Regions from separate parts of the Homo sapiens genome. Here region 1 is linked to region 2. A link means that fine-mapping ties the variant in region 2 to the expression of a gene that starts in the linked region. Tissue or cell type: blood mononuclear cells. Region 2 holds a variant in brackets; the other region holds the start of a gene. All regions are shown on one strand. Distances are between the middles of the regions.

Evidence for each region. PIP is the estimated chance that this variant, and not a neighbour inherited with it, causes the effect.
Region 1: it holds the start of LINC00092, and the variant in region 2 is fine-mapped to the expression of LINC00092 in blood mononuclear cells (TOPMed, PIP 0.90).

The regions. Positions count from the first base shown.
Region 1 is chr9:96,017,004-96,026,918 of GRCh38, forward strand. It overlaps LINC00092 (long intergenic non-protein coding RNA 92), which reads right to left and starts at 4,808. Exons shown (of 2, transcript NR_024129.2): 1 at 4,582-4,808; 2 at 2,729-4,278. ERCC6L2 (ERCC excision repair 6 like 2) reads left to right here. Exons shown (of 19, transcript NM_020207.7): 19 at 1-1,444. LOC105376159 (a long non-coding RNA gene) reads right to left here. Exons shown (of 2, transcript NR_188619.1): 2 at 6,257-8,991. RefSeq lists a silencer at 3,988-4,037 and enhancers at 4,248-4,297, 5,730-6,230, 9,202-9,261, 9,260-9,783.
Region 2 is chr9:96,111,795-96,122,081 of GRCh38, forward strand. LOC158434 (a long non-coding RNA gene) reads right to left here and starts at 4,617. Exons shown (of 3, transcript NR_132344.1): 1 at 4,452-4,617; 2 at 2,841-2,960. The variant C/T (reference allele first, on the strand shown) is at 6,081.

The sequences.
Region 1 (9,915 bases), 95 kb before region 2:
ACTGAACCTGTCAGCCCCAATGACAGGCACACACCTTCAAAGAGCAAGAGTGCCCATCACTTTCTAGGCTCCTTGCCTGCTGCTCATTCCATCATCACGGATACAGACTTGTTTCTGGTTTCATCTTCCACCAGAGATTGCAAAGCATCCTCTGCCCAGTGCTTCTAGGAGGCCTTACTGGGATGGTTCATAAGCCACTTTCCTCTTGGTGACAGCCCCTGTACACTGTGGCATGTACGGCTGGCTCCACTTGGTATTTGTTGCAGGAGGGAAGAACATCTCACTTTTGCTTGGCTAAAGGGCCACCCCAGGAGAGCTATTTTGCCTCAGGGTCTTGCAGGGTTTCTCTAGGAAAACAGTGCATCTGATAGTTACTCTCTGCCCCTAGGAGGAAAGACAGATTCGCCCTTCCTTCCCAAGTCCCAGGCTGTGTGGTTCCCAGCCCCAAGGGTAGCAAGTCAGAACCTCCGGAGAGGCTTTTAAGCATGCACATGTCCAGGGTCCTCATCAAGAGACTGAATCAGGGGGTCTAGGGCTCAGCACAGGCACCCTTTTTGTTTTTGCAGTTTCACAGGAATTCTGATGTGCCAGTGATTGTCAGGTTTGTCCCTGGGCAGGACCCACCTGCCTGACCTTCTGTCCCCCTGGGACACAGTATTTCCAGAGAGGTGCTTCAGTTGCCCCACCACGACTTCCAGCGCCCCCCATCTCTGTATGCAGCTGAGCTCATGATGGAGCCCACTGTGTGCTTTTTGTTGTTGTTACATTCCTATAAAAATGTCCACGCATATTTGAACATCTGTGTTCATAGTGGCATTATTCACAATGGCTACAACACGAAGAAAGCATTCCAAGTACCTATCGATGAATAAGCAAAATATTACACACACAGGAATATTATTCAGCCTTGAAAGGAAATTCGGACACGTGCTACAACATAGATGAATCTTGAGGACGGTATGCAAAGTGAAATAAATCAGACACAGAAGGACAAATACTGTATGATTCCACTTATATAAAGTACCTAGATTAGTCAGATTCATAGAGACAAAGTAGAATGGTGGTTGCTAGACGCTGGAGGGAGGGGAGAAAGGGGAGTTATTAATGGGTGTAGAGTTTCTGTTACACAGGATGCAAAGTGGCCTGAAGATGGATGGTCGTGATGGTTGCACAGCAATGTGAATTTAATGACACTGAAGTGTACACTTAAAAGTCATTAAAATGCTAAATTTTGTATGTGTTTTACAATTTTAAAAATGGAAAAAAAGTAAGACCAAAAGCAACACCTCTCCAGAATGTGTGTTATATACCAAATTTTGATGTATGTGAGATTGCTGACTATATTTTACTTATCAATTTGAAATTATATTGTTTTTATGTTGACACTCCATATAAGCCATTATTTTGAAAAAAACATTTTCCTTATTAAAAGATTGGAAAAAAATTCACACATAGCATTGTTTTTCTTTTTTTGTAAGACAGAGTCTCACTCTGTCACCTAGGTTGGAGTGCAATGGCGCAATCATAGCTCACTGCAGCCTCGACCTCCCAGGATCAAGGGATCTTCCCACCTCAGCCTCCCAAGTAGCTGGGACCACAGATGTGCACCACCCTGCCCGGCTAATTTTTGCATTTTTTTTTTTTTTTTTAGAGACAGGGTTTCGCCATGTTGCCCAGGTCTGGTCTCGAACTTCTGGACTCAAGCAATCTGCCTGCCTTTGCCTGCATTGTTTTTCTATTATATTTCATGTATTTTATTTGCTTTGCTGCAGGTTAAACTATGATGTTTATATTTATTGCCTAAGTTTCCATTAAGACCAATCTTAATTATACCAACATGATACCTTTCTGCCATGGACAGAGATAATACTCATCTGACATTCTTGGTTTTTTGCTGCTCTGTCTTGTAGATAAGAATCAAGAATGCTTCTTTCTACAGATATCTTTTTCGTTAGCTAAATAGGCCTCGCAGTCTCGTTGAAAGAAATAACTAAAACTCACTTTATGTTGTTTCAGTTTATCTGGCAGGGGGAAAAATGCGTGTGCAGCTCTGAATTTCTAATACGTCTCTAAGGAAACTCCAATGAGTTGTCTTGTCAGACTAAAATGTCTGGCAACTAAAATTATTGGCCTCCCTACATTTTTTAACTTTGAATTTTCTTAATTTTTTTGTAAAGTGGGATATGTTTCTGAACTGAAAGAAACTTCAAAAGAAGCCTCATAATAGCTAATTCATATTTTCTCTTCTTTCCTAAAACTATTATAAAAGCACTAATGGGAACAAAACAATTATTTTTCAAAATATAAATGCCAGGATGCACCATATGAGAAGCCCCCAGCCCCCTCTGCTTGCCTCCCAGCACCCGCATTGTGCTCCAGTGTTCAGCTTTCTCTTCCTCTCCGTCCACCACTCCCTGCCCTCTCTTCCCACTGCCAGTACCTAAGTGGCCTTCCTTCACCTGTGCCTGGCAAAGCCCTAGGTTCCTTCCATGTCACCCCTGACTCCTGAATCGACAGCTCCCTCTCTCAGCTTCCTGCTCACCAAGCTCAATGGAGCCTCAATGACCTGCCCACTGTTGCCTGAGGCAGCACTCTCACTGTCCCAAGACCCCATCACACCTTCACCTTGCTGGGACCTCCTAACTCCCTCAGCTTCCCCTACTCCACATTGGGGGTGTATCAGTCCATTCTCACGCTGCTATGAAGAAATACCCGAGAAATACCTGGGTTAATTTATAAAGCAGTTTAATTGGCTCACAGTTCCTTATAGCTGGGGAGGCCTCAGGAAGCTTACAATCATGGAGGCAGTTCACGTGAAGGGGGAAGAAAGGCACCTTTCTCACAGGGTGGTGAGAGAGAGGAAGGGGGACGGGGAAAGCCCTTTATAAAAGCATCAGATCGGCTGGGCACAGTGGCTCACGCGTGTAATCCCAGCACTTTGGGAGGCCGAGGCAGGCAGATCACAAGGTCAGGAGTTCCAGACCAGCCTAACCAACATGGTGAAACCCTTTCTCTACTAAAAATACACATTAGCCGGGCGTGATGGCGCGCACCTGTAATCCCAGCTACTCGGGAGGCTGAGGCAGGAGAATCTCTTGAACCCGGGAGGCAGAGGTTGCAGTGAACCAAGATCGCGCCACTGCACTCCAGCCTGAGTGACAGAGTGATACTCCGTTAAAAAAAAAAATCTTGTGAACTCACTGTCACGAGAGCAGCGTTCAGGAAACCACCTCCATGATTCAATTACCTCCACCTGGTCCCGCCCATGACACGTGGGGATTATTAAAATTCAAGGTGAGATTTGGGTGGGGAAACAGAGCCAAACCATATCAGGGGGCCAGGCCTTCAGCAGGTGGATAAGATGGGAGGAGTTCTGAAATACACACCCGGGATGCTCCAGAGGCCAAATCATAGGGCAGGTCATCCCAAGGACAGCAGTTAATTCACTGACATGCCAGCAAAGGGCAAACCGAATCGGCCCCGCGGAGCCCAGGTAGGGGCGCCGCTCACCTCCTAAAATGCCCTCAAAGACCCCTTAGGGCACAGCCATATGCTGAGACATGTTGGGGTGGACAAGCAGGTCTCAAGAAGCTTAGAATGTCCCCTAGGTGGACGCTAAGGGACAAGGCCCACCGAGGAAGGCAGCTGCAGATGATGGAATGCCCTCCCAATGGCGGGAACAAGCAAGGCTTCCGCAGCTCAAAAGGAGAAACATGCTTTGCGCTGGAGTCCTCAGAAAAGGCCACTTCCAAACTGTGGGGATGGGGAGTGGACGGGCCTAAGAGAATGGGAAGGCAGAACACCCCTTCTCCAGTCTCCCTTGGCCGTTAAAACCCCAGAGCAGCAGCAACGTGGGCTGTTTGGTGCGGAGGTTCCTGGTTTGGGTTGGCCAGGCGTAGAGTGCTTCCGACAATTCACCCACCCTCCAAGACGCGCGGGCCGGGGAGCGGGGAGAGGGCGGAGGGAACGGCGCACCGGGCCCCGTCGGACTGTTGGACCAAAAGTCCTCAGTGTCGGGGGCTCGCAGCGCCGCCGCGGCGAACCCAGCTAGGGGGCACCGCCTGCGCCGGGCACAGGGAGGCCGTTCGGCTTTCCCCCTCGCGCCCATTACTCTCAGGCGTCCCGGGGAACCCCGCGGGCCAAGTGTCGGGCTGCGTCCGGGCAGAGGCGGCTTCGCCTGGTGTCAGCGCGTTTCCGAAGGGCACCCGCGGCGGGGCCCACAACTCGAGCTGGGAGCCGCCCCAAGCAACCCGTTCCTCCGAATCAGGCTGCTTTTCTCTGTAAAGAAAAGAGAAAGCAAGCGATTAACTGATGGCTTGGCCGGCTGGAAACGGGAAAGCGAGTTCTCCAGGAGCCGCACACCTCGGGGAAGCCCAGTCCCTCCCGGGCAGGGAGCGAGGGGCGGTCCTGGGGGCTGCTTCCCGCGGGGAGAGAAGGGAGGGCGGCGCAGCCCTCTGCGGGGTCCGCCCCTCGGTTCTCCGGACCCCCGCGGCCTGGGGGACACGGGGCAAATTCTCGGATAGCGACGGGCAGGAAGGGGACCCGGGCTGGCGATGGGCCGAGTGCCTCCTTTGCTCTCACCCCCGCGCGAAGACGAGGCCAGTGGGCGGGTGGCGTGGGGCGAGGCCTCCGCAGGCCGCCGGGGGCCCAGGCACCTGGAGCCGGGAGGGTCCGCTCCCTTCCCCGCCCTGGATGGCGGCCTATGGGAAAGCAGTCTCCACTGGATCCCGCGCGCGTCGCGCCGAGGTCGTGGGAAACCGAGGGCGGGAGGGCGGGAGGGCGGAGGCGCCGGCAGGGTCGGCGGGACTGGGGCTCGGACGGAGGACAGGGGCGAGGAGGAGGCAGGAAGGACGCCGGGTACTGCGGGGCGCCTAGGGGGTTCCGAGCGCAGCGGCTGCGGGGCCGACCCGCCCAGGATGGAATCAGGGCCCCGGCGCCCCCACGCCGCTCCTCCAGGCCGAACCCCTGCGGCCCCAATCCCCCGGCCTCACGCCCACCCCGCAGGTCGGCCCTGCAGCTGCCTTCCCTTCCTCCACCTCCCTCCCGCCTCCGAAGCCGGCGCCCCCGGCCAAGTGGCCGCTCTCAACCTGTTACCAAGTCCTAGAGAGAATTTCTCCAAAATATTTCCTGGATCCCCCTGCCAAGGGCCCTGTCCCGCCCTTCCAGCTCCCAACTGGATGCCTGCAGACCTCTCCCCGGGTTCCGAGGCTCTGGCCTCCTCCCTCCCTAATCCATTTTCCACACCGCTTCCCCGGGAGCCCGTTAAAATACACCGGGACCGCGGCGGGTGCAAGCCTCCTGTATCTCCACATAGCAGGCTAAGGGGAATTGGGTAGGGAATAAAGGCTGCAGGGGACATCGGCTGGCAGGTATGAAGCCCGTATTGTGTGTCGTTTGTTAAACACTTCCAGTGGATTTTCTCGTTTAATCTGCCCAACAACGCTTCTGGGCCGGTATTCGTATTGTTTTATAGAGGGAGAAACTGAGGCACAGAGGGGCACTCGGCTTGTAAGCAACGGAGTAATTCAGAGCCCGTCAGCCCCACGCCGAGTTTATTCACCCTGGCAGGGGCTTCCGCGGGAGCCATGACCCTTCCTAACTGGGGTGGAAGGACCCGCAGCGCCAGCCGGGTCCGGGCCAGACGGCAGCGAGTGTCTGTTAATAGGGATGCTGAATGGGTCAGGCAGTGGGGCACAGGTTCAGTGTGATCTGGAATGCCTGCGAGGCCCCCTTGCTCATCCACCTGCCTTTAATGGATGGGTGGTCTGAGTTTCTGGAGATGGGCAAGATGGAGCAGTCTCCACACTTGGCTCTTCAGCCCCGGCGCCCCCCACAGCCGCCTCTGCTTTCCTGGAGATACCGCAGGCTCCTAACCTCAGGCCGGCTTGTGCTGCTCCACCCTCTCCCTCCCCCACAGACACAGGCCACTTAGCGCGCTCTCCCGTCCCTCACCCCTGCCAACAGCAGCCACTTCTGGCCACTTCCTTTACATGTGAATGAGTCCAGGTCTGGGCTGCCTTTGTCCGGGGAGGCCGGTGGGATTTCCATCAATAATTGTTGGTTGGTGAGTCAGGGGTCAGCAGTGGTCTCCTTTCCAGGACCCAGAAATGACACCACAAGGGTAACTGGCCACTATTTCCTGCCTAGGAACTAGCAGCATCCCACCCCCACCACTCCATGGCCTAGATAAGACAGGCCAAGACCCCAGAGACAACAGGACTCTGGAACAGGGAAGGGATTTATGATTAGCATAGGCTCTAGTTAAATTCCTTTTTTTATTTCTGTGCATTGACCTATTATGTAATATGCTTTTTTCTTCCTGGAATACAGATCCTACCAGTGGTTTTATTCCTTTTTTATATAATGTTTAATTCATCTGTCTCTGTAAATCCATCACATGAAATTGAAAGGGTCTCAAAGAGCAGACTGTTTCCCCCCTAACTCTTCCACTATTCAACCCAGGGGCAAGCACTGTCATCCCTCACTGCTACCAGCTTCTGGTCAGTCTTTCTGGCCACACGTATGTAGACATGCTTCATTCTTTTAACTGTGTTTTTGATGTTTTCTATATTAACACCAAAAAAAAGTACACTAAGAAATCAGTGCTATTTCCGAATGGAGCCCGGAGTTTCTCAGCACTGCGCTCCTCCAGTGCCAGAAGCACCCTACTTCTCTTCCTCAGTTGCTTCATCAATCACATGGGGCTGGGGCAGTGAGGAGGATGTATTTGCCTCACATAGAGACTTAAAGGTTTTCCTGATCTCCTCTGGGTACAGAACAAGAAATTAAGGATGATCTGAAATATACAGGGCTTGGATAAGACTTGAAACAATTGTGATGATAGGAATTGCTGGGTTCTGGAACCGAGGATTGCAGTAACCAGGGGCTCAGAAAGCTGAGATATCCCTCCAGTGAAAGGGGACCCGGGAGCATAACTGAACAAAAGTCATTTCTCTTCCTCATGATGGGTATTTCTCTTTTTCTGGTGAGAAGTGTCAGTATCAGCATTTATCTGCTGGAGACTGTTTAAATGTTAGGTGTACTTAGCAACGTTGCATCTATTTTTCTTAAACACGAATCACTTTCCAGAAGGGAACCGAAATGACCACCTCTAAAAGTTGCTACTAACTATTGCTCCAGAAACCAAAGTGATGCCACTCACATGGCTGGCCATAGTCTAATTTCTTCACAAACAGAGGCAGAGCAGCTTGCACCACGTAACCCCAAAGCTTTTCTGTAACTGATCAGAAGTTCCTTTCTCCACCCTTTAGCAGAGGTGCTGGTGACCAGGGAAGAGGAGAAGGTAAAGAGCAGAGTGAATGAAGGGAAGTAGGGGACATAGATTCTTTAAAGTCTGGGTAATCAATCCCAATGTATTCAAGAGAGACCTCAACTTGCTTTCCTAGATGGGACGTGGTGGCCCACGGCATCCATAGCAAACCACTCTCTTCTTGGATAGTTGGCTCCCAGACTTGAAGGCTGTGCTCCTTGCTGTCCTCGGACCTCTCCAGCGGTCTCTTTCTAGTTTCCTTGGTGGGCTCCGCCTCCTCCTCCTCACCTTGTCCCTTGGATTTCCCAGGGAGCTATCCCCAATCTAGGGTTAGTCTCATGCACCCACCATATTCTAGGGGCCCCTCCACTCACTCTCATGCTTTTAATGAATTCATTTATGGGTGATCAGGAATCTTCACCATAGCCCAATCACCCTTCTGAGTTTCAGGTGCACACCCTGTTGCTTTGGTGTGACTGCTTCCCGTTGGGTTATCCTTGGGCACCTCACACTCATTGTGTCCAAAGCAGAATTCTTCATCCTCAACTCTGCACTCATCCTATATTTGAGACTCCTAACTCAGTTAATCGCATTGCTTCAGTCATTGACCTCATAACCCAAATCTCAGCACCATCTTTTTTTATTTGGTTGGATGCTTCCATTCCTCTCAGCCACTGTATTCACTCAGTAACCAAGACTTCCAGAGTTGACCTCATAAATATTTCCTTAACTCTGATGCCTTCTTTCCAGTTTCCTACCAGTGTCCTAGTTCCTGAACCACTGGAATAGCTTCAAGTCTTTCACTTCTTAGGTCTTCTAGAGAAATTTGTCATATCTAGTAGAACTCTTTTGTTGAAAATGACGCAGACTGGTTTAAGCAAAAAAGCAAAATCATGGATGTCAGGCTGGTTTCAGGTGTGGCGTGGTGTCGAAGCTCAAGGGACACCACCCACACCCTGTGTCACCAGCTCACCACTCAGGTCTGCTCTCTGTCACTCTGGTGGGCTTCATTCTCAGGCTGCATCATGGGAGTGCAGTAGCAGCAGAAGGTCCAGCTCGCCTGGTGCTTCCAGTGTCAAGTTCTATAGGAAGGAGGCAGGCCTGAGGCCAGATGGCAGCGAGTTTCTGTTAACAGTGACACTGAGTGGGTCAGGCGGTGGGGCTCAGGTTCAGTGTGATCCGGAATGCCTCCGAGGCCCCCTTGCTCATCCACCTGCCTTTAGTAGATGGGTGGTCTGAGTTTCTGGAGATGACTAGGAGTAGCAGGAAGGGACACTGAGCTACACAACACATCCAAAGCCCACCACACATCAGACCCAAGGATTCCCCTGCATAAAATTCCCCAAGGCAAATTTTGCCCATTGAAGTTTTGTCAAGATGATTTGATTCTTCTGTTGAAATGCAGTATTAATCATTGTTGAACTTTTTCATTTTGTTTGCATTGATATTTCCACCAGTAATCTTCAATAAGAATAGAATTTTAGAACTGATCATTTGGGTCTACTCTTCAACTTGCAAGGAACTGTGCGCGGTGTTAAGACCATGCCTCTGAGATCACTGGAGAGACAGATGGAGAAGTGGAGGATTTGTATTTAGAGTCTAGTCAGGGAAACACACCTCCCCCCTCAGATAGAGAGAATCTCCTGTTGTTGGTCGATATTGGAGGATTGAGTGGCAAGCCAAGATTCAGATATGGTGACTGATAGAAGCAGTGAAGGTCTCTAAAGAGCAAAGAGAAGTCATGAGGGTTCTGAGAACCGAGGTCCTGGAAGCTGGAGAAGGGGCCCTGGGGAGTGGAACCGGACCTCTGCACTTGCCTGGCCCTGGGGCCTCCCAGAGAGCTGGACTCAAATCTCCGAGATGGACCAGCCGGCCCGGGCGGGATGTGGGCAGGCAGGTCCTGGGAGTGCATGAAGCAAGCTAGAAAACTGGGCATGACCGCGCCACCGTTGGGAGTCCGGGGGGTTATTGGGGCTCTGCTGACGGGAACAGGCTCCTGTCCTGCGATCTGCGGCCACCACGCCGCCCTCTGGGGCCCCCTGTTGGCAGAACCTGGCGGGAGCTCGCTGGCCCGCAGAAGGCTCAGGGCCTGGTAGCCAGGGCGCGGATCCCAGGAGGTGGATTCGGAACTCAGTGAGCCCCGGAGCGCCGCAGTGGGGCGGGGGTGGGGGAAGCGCGGGGAAGCGCGGAGTCTCTGGGTCAGCTGGTCCCCACTGCCAACGCCCACAGGCCAGGCGGCTTCCGCAGCATCTGCTCCACACCCCATGCGGAGCAGGGGCTTGTTGTTTCTGCACACGCCCACCGCATACACACCGCACCACACACACAAACACACTACACACACCACACTATACACACCACACACACAAACACACCACACACAAACACACCACACACAGCACACCACACACACCACACTACACACAAACGCCACACACACCCCACACACCAAACACACCACACCACACACACAGCCCACACACACTACAAACACACCACACACAAACACCACACACACCCCACACACATACCACAACACACACCAAACTCACCACACGCACCAAACACGCCCCACACCACACAAACACACCACACAGACCCCACACACCACACATACCACAACACACACTACACCAAACACACCA
Region 2 (10,287 bases):
CATAGCAGAAGCTCAGGGCACCCTGACTTCTCGATGTGGAGAAGGTGTCCACCTCTTCTCCCAGACATGTCTTGAGCAGACAGACAAGGCCCCCTGTTTCACAAAGTGGATTTCATGGCAGTGACATAAATAAAGAGCCTGAGGATGGGATTGTGCTACTTGCCAAACTTCAGTCCTGTCTCTTTGCTGCGCGTGATAATCTGCCCTTCCTGCTAGACCTGCTTAGGTCAGACTTGGAAGTGAGAAATGAATGGAGAACGCCCGTTTCCCAGCCACCTCGCGCTCCTGCCTTTTTTGCCCACCTTCTGTCCTGGATTCCTTTCCCTTCTCTAGATTCAAGAATCAAGAGTTGATTCAGGTCCCAGTGAAAATAACGCAGGGAGAAGCAGGCAGTCACTGTGAACTGGCTGAAATAATTGACCAGGAATTTGCATTTGGGCACAGGCTCTCTTTGGGATCTCCATCTTGTACGGTTCTCTACCCTACCCACACCCTGCACCACTGGACTGGCCTAGAAGTTCTTTTCTTAGTCGTGCTACATGTCATCAAAACTGAACAAAGGAGTAAGACACTGGGGAAAATACCTCTTTGTTGCCTCCCGGCACCCCCTTCCTCATCTGACCAAAATGTTACCTTTACCTGCCAATGTTGGTCAGCCAGACACCTGAATGGGAATTTAAGTATGAAATTCAGAGCCTTCTGATTAAACCAGTAAAGTCTAAACAAGTCACAGACTCAAAAGACAGCTAAGCTCTCCACCGTGCCAGCCGAGTAGGCAACATGGGAGGTGGCCACTCAAATGAATGTGCCTCACCTATGCCAGACTAGACAATGCCTTGAACACCAGCATCCCAGGGGAATAATAGGCCCTTGGTACATACATAGTCAGCCTTAAAAATGAACTTTCCCTGCCGGACAATGGTGGCTCACACCTGTAATCCCAGCACTTTGGGATTTGCGAAAGCAGGAGGATCACTTGAGGCCAGGAGTTGACAAGCCTGGGCAATATAGAGAGACCTTGTCTCTATAAAAAAAAAATTAAAAATTATAAAATTATAAATTATTTTTAAAAATGATTACGTTTTCCACTGCCAGTTAAATGAAATGCTTAGCCTTACCTGTTTCCTTTCCCTTCTTAAAATGCAAGTGCCTTTAGGAAAATGACTACTTATCTAAATCTTTCTCACTTTAGTGTGAAATAATTTGTTAGATAACTTTCCAATATGATTGCCAGCCAAGAACAGGCCCCAAGAGGACAAGGCAGAGGACAAGGAGATTGACTGCAAGCAGGGAAACAAGCATAGATGACAGTGAGGTCATCCTACAGAACCTGCTGCCTGGGACGCCACCAATGGCACTCTCAGTGGACACTCACACCATCATTGGTCCTTGCTGCCCTCCGCTGGGAGCCTGTCTCCACTGTCACCTCCATGAGTTCTCTATGTCACTTCTTCAGGAGCCCACCATCTGAATGGGAGGACCTGGCAGAACTGGCTCCACTTCCTGTCCCCACTTCCAGAAGACAGGTGGTTAGAAGATTCATCTGCACACAGTGGGAAACAGGGCCAGACCCCCGCAGATCTTGGCATTTCCTCCAAAGAGACAGGCTGCCCAGTGTGGCTGCAAAACACAGCAAATGTCCCCTAGAGTAGGTAAAATTGGAGAACGTATTAGAGTCCTTGGGCCTCAGGCATATTAAATCTTTTTACATGGCTGGGCGAGGTGACTCATGCTTATAATCCCAGCACTTCAGGAGGCCAAGGCAGGAGGATCTCTTAAGCCCAGAAGTTTGAGATCAGCCTGGGCAACATACAAAAGATGAAAAAATTAGCTGGGCATGGTGGCACACACCTGTAATCCCAGCTCCTTCAGAGGCTGAGATCAGTTGAGCCTGGGAAGTCGAGGCTGCAGTGAGCTGTGATCGCACACTGCACTCACTCCAGCCTGGGTGACAGAGGGAGGCCCTGTCTAAAATAAATAAATAAATCTATCTTTTTACTTGTTAGTTCATTTAATTTGCACAGCTCTGGGGAGAGTTCATTACCTCCAGCTTTATGGATCTCCAAGACTAAAGAGATGGAGTAACTTGCTCAAGGTCCCACAGTTAGAAGGCCATGAACAGAGATTCCAGGGTGTAGCTGGTGGCTCCAAAGCCCATGCCCTTCCCAGCCAGCTTCCCCTGGCATCTGAGGGGTGGCCTGGGCATCAGGTGTCTGTCTATAGAGGAGGGTCTTGGAGACGGTGTCTTAGTGGGTGATGGTTGCCATAACAAACTACCACAGCCTGGGTGGCTGCCGCAGAACTTATTTTCTCACATGCCTGGAGCTTTGCCGAGATCAAGGTGTTGGCAGGATTGATTTTTTTCTGATGCCTGTCTCCTTGACTGGCAGAGGGCCGTCTTCTCCCTGTGTCTTTGCATGGTCTTTCCTCTGCACATGTCTGCGTCCTAGTTCCCTTTTCTTACAAGGACATCCATCATATTGGATCAGGACCCACCCTAATGACCTCATTAACATAATTGCCTCTTTAAAGGCCTTATCTCCAAATACAGTCTTATTCTGAAGTACTAAAGGGTTAGGATTTGTTTTTGTCTTTGTTTTTGTTTTTGTTTTGAGACAGAGTCTCACTCTGTCACCCAGCCTGGAATGCGGTGGCACAATCACAGCTCATTGTAGCCTCCAACTCCTGGGCTCGAGCAATCCTCCTGCCTCAGCCTCCTGAGTAGCTGGGACTACAGGCATCCACCACCATGCCTGGCTAATTTCTTTTATTGTGGACATGGGGTCTCACTGTGTTGCCCAGGCTGGTCTTGAACCCCTGGCCTCAAGCAATCCTCTCACCTCTCAAAGTGCAGGGATGACAGATGTGAGCCATCACACCAGGACTTTAACGCAGGAATCAGGAGCAGCTGGAGGACAATTCATCCCGAAACGGAAGGGACACCAGTCAGGGAATTATTTCTGACAGGAGATGATAGGGAGAGCAGTGATGAGGCCCAAACAGATAAGCCCTGCGCCCCCACTTCCCAGGTCTGATGAATGATGCCCCACCTGCCTTCACCTTCATCCAGACTACTGCTGGTTTAGTCTTTATTTTCAGCCTCGTTAACCCCAAGGCAAGGGTGTCATTTTTCGATTCTCAATGTAACTTCTCTGCTCCGGGTTAAATTATCCTTCAATCAATGGTGTTTTTGCCCATTTTGCATAGCAAGATTCCGTGTAGTTCTGGCCTCTAAACTGCCAGACCTATGCTGGGACACCCATGCATGAAGGCCTGCTATCAACTGAATTGCATCCTCCCTAAACTCATATGTTGACACCCTAACCCCCAAAGTGATGGTGTTTGGGAGATAATCAGGTTTAGATTTGAAGCTCGTGGTGGAAGAGAAGCTAGAGAGCTTTCCTTTGCCTTCTGTTCTCCTACGAGGACACAGCCAGAAGGCAGCCGTTTACCAGTCAGAAAGAGAGCCCTCACCAGAAACTGACCATGCTGGCACCCTCATCTTTCACTTCCAGCCTCCAGAACTCTGAGAAAATTAATTTCTGTTGTTTAAGCCACCAGTCCAGGATATTTTGTTATGAAGCGACTATGACAGGGAGGGGAGCTGTTCCACCCCTGCTGCCTCAGCCTGCATGGCTGTCCCTGTCCCCACCTCCTCATCTTTCTATCTTCTTGCCTCTTCCCTTCCCCATCTCTCCTGTGAATTAGCTCCTTAGGGCTGCCATAACAAAAGTACCACAAATGTGGCAGCTTAAAACAAGAGAACTAACATGGTGAAACCACGTCTCTACTAAAAATACAAAAAAAAAAAAAAAAAAAAAAAAAGCCGAGTGTGTTGGCGGGCACCTGTAGTCCCAGCTCCATGGAAGGCTGAGGCAGGAGAATGGTGAACCCGGGAGGCGGAGCTTGCGGTGAGCCGAGATCGCACCACTGCACTCCAGCCTGGGCGACAGAGCGAGACTCCATCTAAAACAAAAAACAAAAAACCACCACCACCAACAACAAAAAACAAACAAGAGAAACTTCCTCTCTCACAGTTTTGGAGACCAAAAGTCCAAAATCAATGTGTTGGCAGGGCCACGATCTCTCTGAAGGTTCTGGGGGGGATCCCTCCCTTGCCTCTTCCAACTTGTGGTGCTTCCTGGCATTTCTTAGCTGTGACAGCATCACTCCCATCTCTGAGTCCAAGTTCACACGGCTTTCTTCCCTCTGTGTCTCTCTGTGTCTCAAATCTTCTCCTTTCTCTTGCAAAAATATCTACTAGTCAATGGACTTAGGTCCCACCCTAAATCCAGGATGATCTCATCTTGAGACCTTTAACTAGATCATATCTGCAAAAATCTCATTTCCAAATAAGGTCACATTTGCAAGGACCGGGGTAAGGACTTGGAGCTATCTTTTCGGGGACACTTTTCTACCCTCCACACCCACTTACCCTTTCCCCACCACACCTCATCTTCCTTCCTCCACATCCTGGAGCTCACTCTGCTGTCCTGTCCTTCGCCTGCAGGCTTTGACCCAGGGCTGGATGGGAGCTGGAGCAGGAGGCCCAGGCATTGCATCTGGTCTCCACAACAAGACGCTCAGTACCTACGAGTCCAACTTTCAGTCTCCAAGTGTGAGCATACAGAGCAATCTCACAAAGAACCTTCTCACTGGGAAGGAAATGGCTTACACATTAACATGAGTGCACTTAGACAAAGAATAGCTGGCAATGTTGCAATGCTGGAGACAAGTCCCAGCAGCCAGTTGTGCCTTGTTAGAGACTCATTGATTTTGGGTGGCCTGGATTCCATTGTCACCAATGATATGATCATATGGGCCATGTTCCAAATGCCTCTGGCTGTGTTCAGAGGATGAGAAGGGGGAGAGTTAAACAAACCCCCATGCAGAATCTGAAGGCTTTATTCATCCACCCTGGCACTGCTTTGCCCACTGAATAAAACATTCTGTACCCAGGGGCAAGCCCAGGCCCCAGCTGGTACCGTTCCCAATGTCCCACAGGCTTCCAGGCTGCCCTTCAGCACAGACTCCTCCAGAACACTGTGCTCAGGGGCCGCCAAGGTTCCAGCTCCAAGATGCAAACTCTGCCCCAATTGCCAAGGGAGTGGCTGTCTTTGCAGGGCATTGTCTGTGAGTCCTTGATCCCTGTCTTCACTAATGGCAATCCCAGGAAACTGCCTGTGAATAAAAGCCTTCTCAGCCCTGGGGAAGAAACAGGCACAGCTGGCTCAAATTGTCCAGCTGAAGACAGAGCTCAGCCTGGAAGGGACACAGCTCAGTTACCACCGTGCCAGGCAGCTCTTCCTTTTATATAAACATTTGAGGGCAGGGTTCTCAAGCCCCGCTGCCCCCTAGTCCTACCTTTTCTCCATTGTGACCACAGAGGGTTTTGTTGTTGTTGTTGTCATTGTTTCTTGGGGGGTTTTTTTGTTTGTTTTTTGTTGTGTCTTGTTTTCTTTTTGAGGCAAAGGGATAACTCTTTCAGAGGGGCACCTGGAACTGTCTGGTGTGGAAGCTTTTCCTCATTCGGCACAATTTCAAACTTGCGAGCTTTCACAAAGGCGTGGGTGACTGTTTTACTCCTTGATAAAAGTCTGGCATATTCAGAGTTACTGAGACCCAGGAGCGGTATCTAATACTTTGGAAACTAGCAAGGGTTGCTTTATTTCCCATTCTTGATTCTACATTGAAAGTGGGGGATCTTGTTATGCAGATCCTAACACTCTGCCCCTCCCCAAATCCAAATGAAAGGCAAGGTCATTTCACTGGAAATGTGGTAAGCAGTTAGCAGACAATGGGATTGTCCCCAGTGCGGGGTGAGGGTGGATAAGAAACACACAGGTGGGACGGTTAACAACATCAGGAGCTGTGGCTTTATGGAAATTTATGTAAGCATGATGAATTGCACACAGCCATTTGTCTCTATTCCCTCCTAACCCTCCATGAAAGTGACAGGAAAGGGACAAAAAGACATTGGCGCACAAAAGCGAAGAGAACATGAAAGGAGTCACAGCAGAGAGAGGTCAACTGAATGACTGCAAGAGGAAGTCAGATCTAGCAGTGAGTAAGTGAACAGA[C/T]CACAGGATGCAGAAAGCTAGCACTTCAAGGGCTGGGGCAGGAGCTGCTGGGCAGATTCACAACGCAGAACCCAGGGAGTCTTGGGAAGTGGAAGCATAGGGCATTGCTCATGGGGAATATCCCAGTGGGCTAAAAATGAGAGGATTAATTGAAAATCTATAAAAGAAGAAGTCAGAGATTCCCTTGCTTACCTCACTCAGGACTGGGACCACCCCTCCCTCATCCAGAAGAAGACAAGTGGATGGGGGGAGTTGTTGTCACTTTCTAGAGAAGACAAAGGAAAGGGAGTCCAGGCTCAGGACCCAGGTCTAGGTGAAAACAGTGGAGTGTAATAAAAATCAAGCCCTGTGGCATCCCCTTTCCTCACTTGGCTGTGAACTAGGCCAGGCTCAGGAAATTAGAGAATTCTTCTCTGGGGAAACTCATCAATCCCAGAGATAGGATTTGCAGATAATAATGTTTAAGAGTTCCTCAACAAAATAGCCAGTTTCCTTCTGGGAAGTCCTACTGAAAGAGAAACCTTTGCATGCAGAGTTTCCAATAACCTAATTTATTTGTTTGTTTGTTTATTTTTAAATTTTGAGACAGGGTCTTGTGGTTTCACCCAGGCTGGAGTGCAGTGGGGTTATCATGGCTCACTGCCACTTTGACTTCCCAGGCTCAAGCCATCCTCCCACCTCAGCCTCCCAAGTAGCTGGATCTACAGGCATGTGCCATCATGCCCAGCTAATTTTTAAATTTTTTTTGTAGAGACAGGGTCTTGCTTTGTTACCTAGGCTTTTCTCGAACTCCTGGGCTCCAGCAATCCTCCCACCTTTGCCTCCCAAAGTGCTGGGATTATAGGCATGAGCCACCACACCTGGCTTCCAATCATCTTTTTAGTCTAGCCATTTGCCCTTTAAATATGAATGGACTCAGGAGTAGCAGATATTTGAGGAAAGTCTTTACGAAAGAAAGAAAAAAACATAATAAAGGAATGAGAGGTAATATAGAGAACAAGATACCTTTATAAAATTTGTAATTTATTTTTTAGTGAAAAAGGGAGATGTTGCATCCATAAAACAAGATCAAGGTGCCATATTAAGAGGAACACATAAAAATGATAACATGAAATTTTAAAACTTTCTCATAAAAGTTGGAAGATAAAGAGGATCTCTGATGCTAGAATCATAGAGCTTTTGCTTAAGAATTGCTTACAATGTTTTTCAGATTCTGAATTCTAGCAGAACAGCTGACATCAACCAGTGTGAAAACCCTTATAGAAGAACTATATCAGCATGAGAATGTTTCTTCATCTCCCCTTCCCATGACTTTACCCTGAATTCATCAATCAATCAATGATCCCCACACCTCAGTCCACTCCAAACCCCTTAACATCCCTAGCCCCAAACTCCTCAGGGAGGTGGATGTGCGGTTTCCTCCCATCTCATTAGGCTGCCCTATAATTATTTAATTTGTTCTCTGCTGCTCCCTGGTGTCTCAGCATATTGACTTGCTGTGCATTGGGCAGATGAATCTATTACAAGAGTCCCACCAACTACTGTAGTATTATGACAACAGATCACCTTGGGATTTCAAAATACTGGGAAAAGTGAGAAAACTCTAAATCTTCTGGAGAGACAACCAGAGCCACATAAAGGAGCAGTGTATTAGCCCATTCTCTTTTTTCTTTTTTTTTTTTGAGACGGAGTCTCGCTCTGTCACCCAGGCTGGAGTGCAGTGGCACAATCTCGGCTCACTGCAAGCTCCACCTCCCAGTTTCACACCATTCTCCTGCCTCAGCCTCCCTAGCAGCTGGCACTACAGGTGCCCACCACTCCCCCTGGCTAATTTTTTGTATTTTTATTAGAGATGGGGTTTCACTGTGTTAGCCAGGATGGTCTCGATCTCCTGACCTCGTGATCCACCCGCCTCAGCCTCCCTAGTCCATTCTTACACTGTTAATAAAGACATACCCAAGACTGGGTAATTTATTAAAGAAAAGAGGTTTAATGGACTCACAGTTCCACATGGCTGGGGAGGCCTTATAATCATGGTGGAAGGCAAAGGAGGAGCAAAGGCACATCTTACATGGCGGCAGGCAAGAGAGCATGTGTGGGGCAACTTCCCTTTATATAACTGTCGGATCTCATGAGACTTATTCACTATCACAAAAACAGCACAGGAAATCCTGCCATCATGATTCAATCACCTCCCACAACACGTGGGGATTATGGGAGCTATAATTCAAGATGACATTTGGGTGGGGACACAGCCAAACCATATCAAGCAGGAATCAGAATGGTACTGGGGTTTTCAAGAGCAAGACTAGAAGCCAGAAGAGTGATGCCTTCCAAGTGATTTCCAACCTAGCATTTTTAGCCCCCAACCCACAATGTAAAAACATTTTACTTTCAGTAAAAGTGTGAAAGTAAGATAAACACATTTTCAGACATGCCAGTCTCAAAATATTAATTAAAACACCACTACTTTTTATTGATTTTATTTTCAGGAAGCTGGTGGAGGTTGTGTGTCATCAAGCAAGAAAACATACCAGGAATGAGGAAGATGTAGGACACAGGAACAGGATATCCATCAAAAACGAGAACTCCAGGGTTGATGGAGAAGAACCCTAGGTTGATGACAGCCCTATAGCTGGCCTAAGGAAACACCAGTCCATACTGGAAGAGAAAAGTTCTGGAAAAGATATGGAAAAGAAATCTATGGTAAAGGGAGAACTGAGTAGAATACCTGATAGATTTAAACAGAAATCTCTAGGAAGATAATCACCAAGAAAAACAGGAGTCACATAGATTACCTGATGTATTGGAACGTTTTGAGAAATGTATACTCAGGCTAAGAAGTTGAGGATGAGTAAATGACAGGTACATTACACAATAGGAAATGAAAATTAAGGCAACTAGAAACTCCCAGGGAAACAAAATAGTGATCATGAAAGAAAAAAAAAACAAAGTACACTATTGCACTTGGTTGTTTATATAATCATGATATTGTAAAAACCGAACTTTGATTTAACCAAAAATTAAACTGTAGAGATAACTATATTGGGAGAGTGTGGAGAGGAAGTCTAAATAAAAGGAGTCAAAATTTATATTTAATGGTGAGAAGTTAATTGAGATCTAAAACTGAAAAAATTAGGAAATAGCAACGTAAACTTGTTGCTTCACAGTATGGACATAAACATCAGAAGAAGGAACTAAAAGAGTTAAAATGTTTGCCATAGGAGTGGGAATGAGGGTGAGTGGGGCGGGTGACAAGACTACTTTGGTTTTGTGTTGTTGTAAAATCCATTCACTTTTAAAATTGTATTAAACTATGTTCATATGTTGATAAAAATTAAAGTTAAAATGTTTGTTGGAGGTCTCTGACTTTGACGTTTAGGAAACAATGCTATCAGCATTTTTTAAAGTACTTGCTAAATACTTGCTCACATATGGCAAGTTTTAGGCACCAGAACAATGATTTATACTGCATCCCTCCTGAGAAAATGTGGTTTGACCACAATGAGATGTCACCTCACATGTGTTAGGAGGGTTTTATCAAGATGAAAAATAATAAGTGTTGGCCAGGATGTGGAGAAAAGGGAACCCTTGCACACTGTTGGTGGAAATGTAAATTAGTGCAACCATTATGGAAAACAGTCGGTGGCTCCTCAAAAAATTAAAAATAGAATGACCATGTGATCCAGCAATCTCACTTGTGGATATGGGAAATGATATCAGTATGTCTAAGTATGCCCAAGAGATACCTCTACTCCTGTGTTCACTGAAGCGCTATTCACAATGGCCAAGATAAGGAATCAATCTAAGTGTCCATCAATGGAATGAATGGATAAAGAAAATGTGGTATTCAGCCTTAAAAAAATAAGGGAACCCCGTCATTTTCCAACTATATGGGTAAACCTGGAGGACATTATGTTAACTGAAATAAGCCAGGCACAAAAGACAATACCTCAAGATCTCACTCATATGTGGAATCTTAAAAAGTCAAACTCAGAGGAGCACCAGGGACTGGATGGGGGAGGGATGCTGGGAAGATGTTTGTTAAAGGATACAAAATTTTGGTGAGATAGGTGGAATGAGTTCAAGAGATCTATTGCACAACATGGCGACCCCATTTAATAACAATGTACTGCATTCTTGAAAATTGCTGAGAGTACATTTTAATTGTTCTCACTGCGAAAAGAGAGCTAAGTATGTGAGGTAA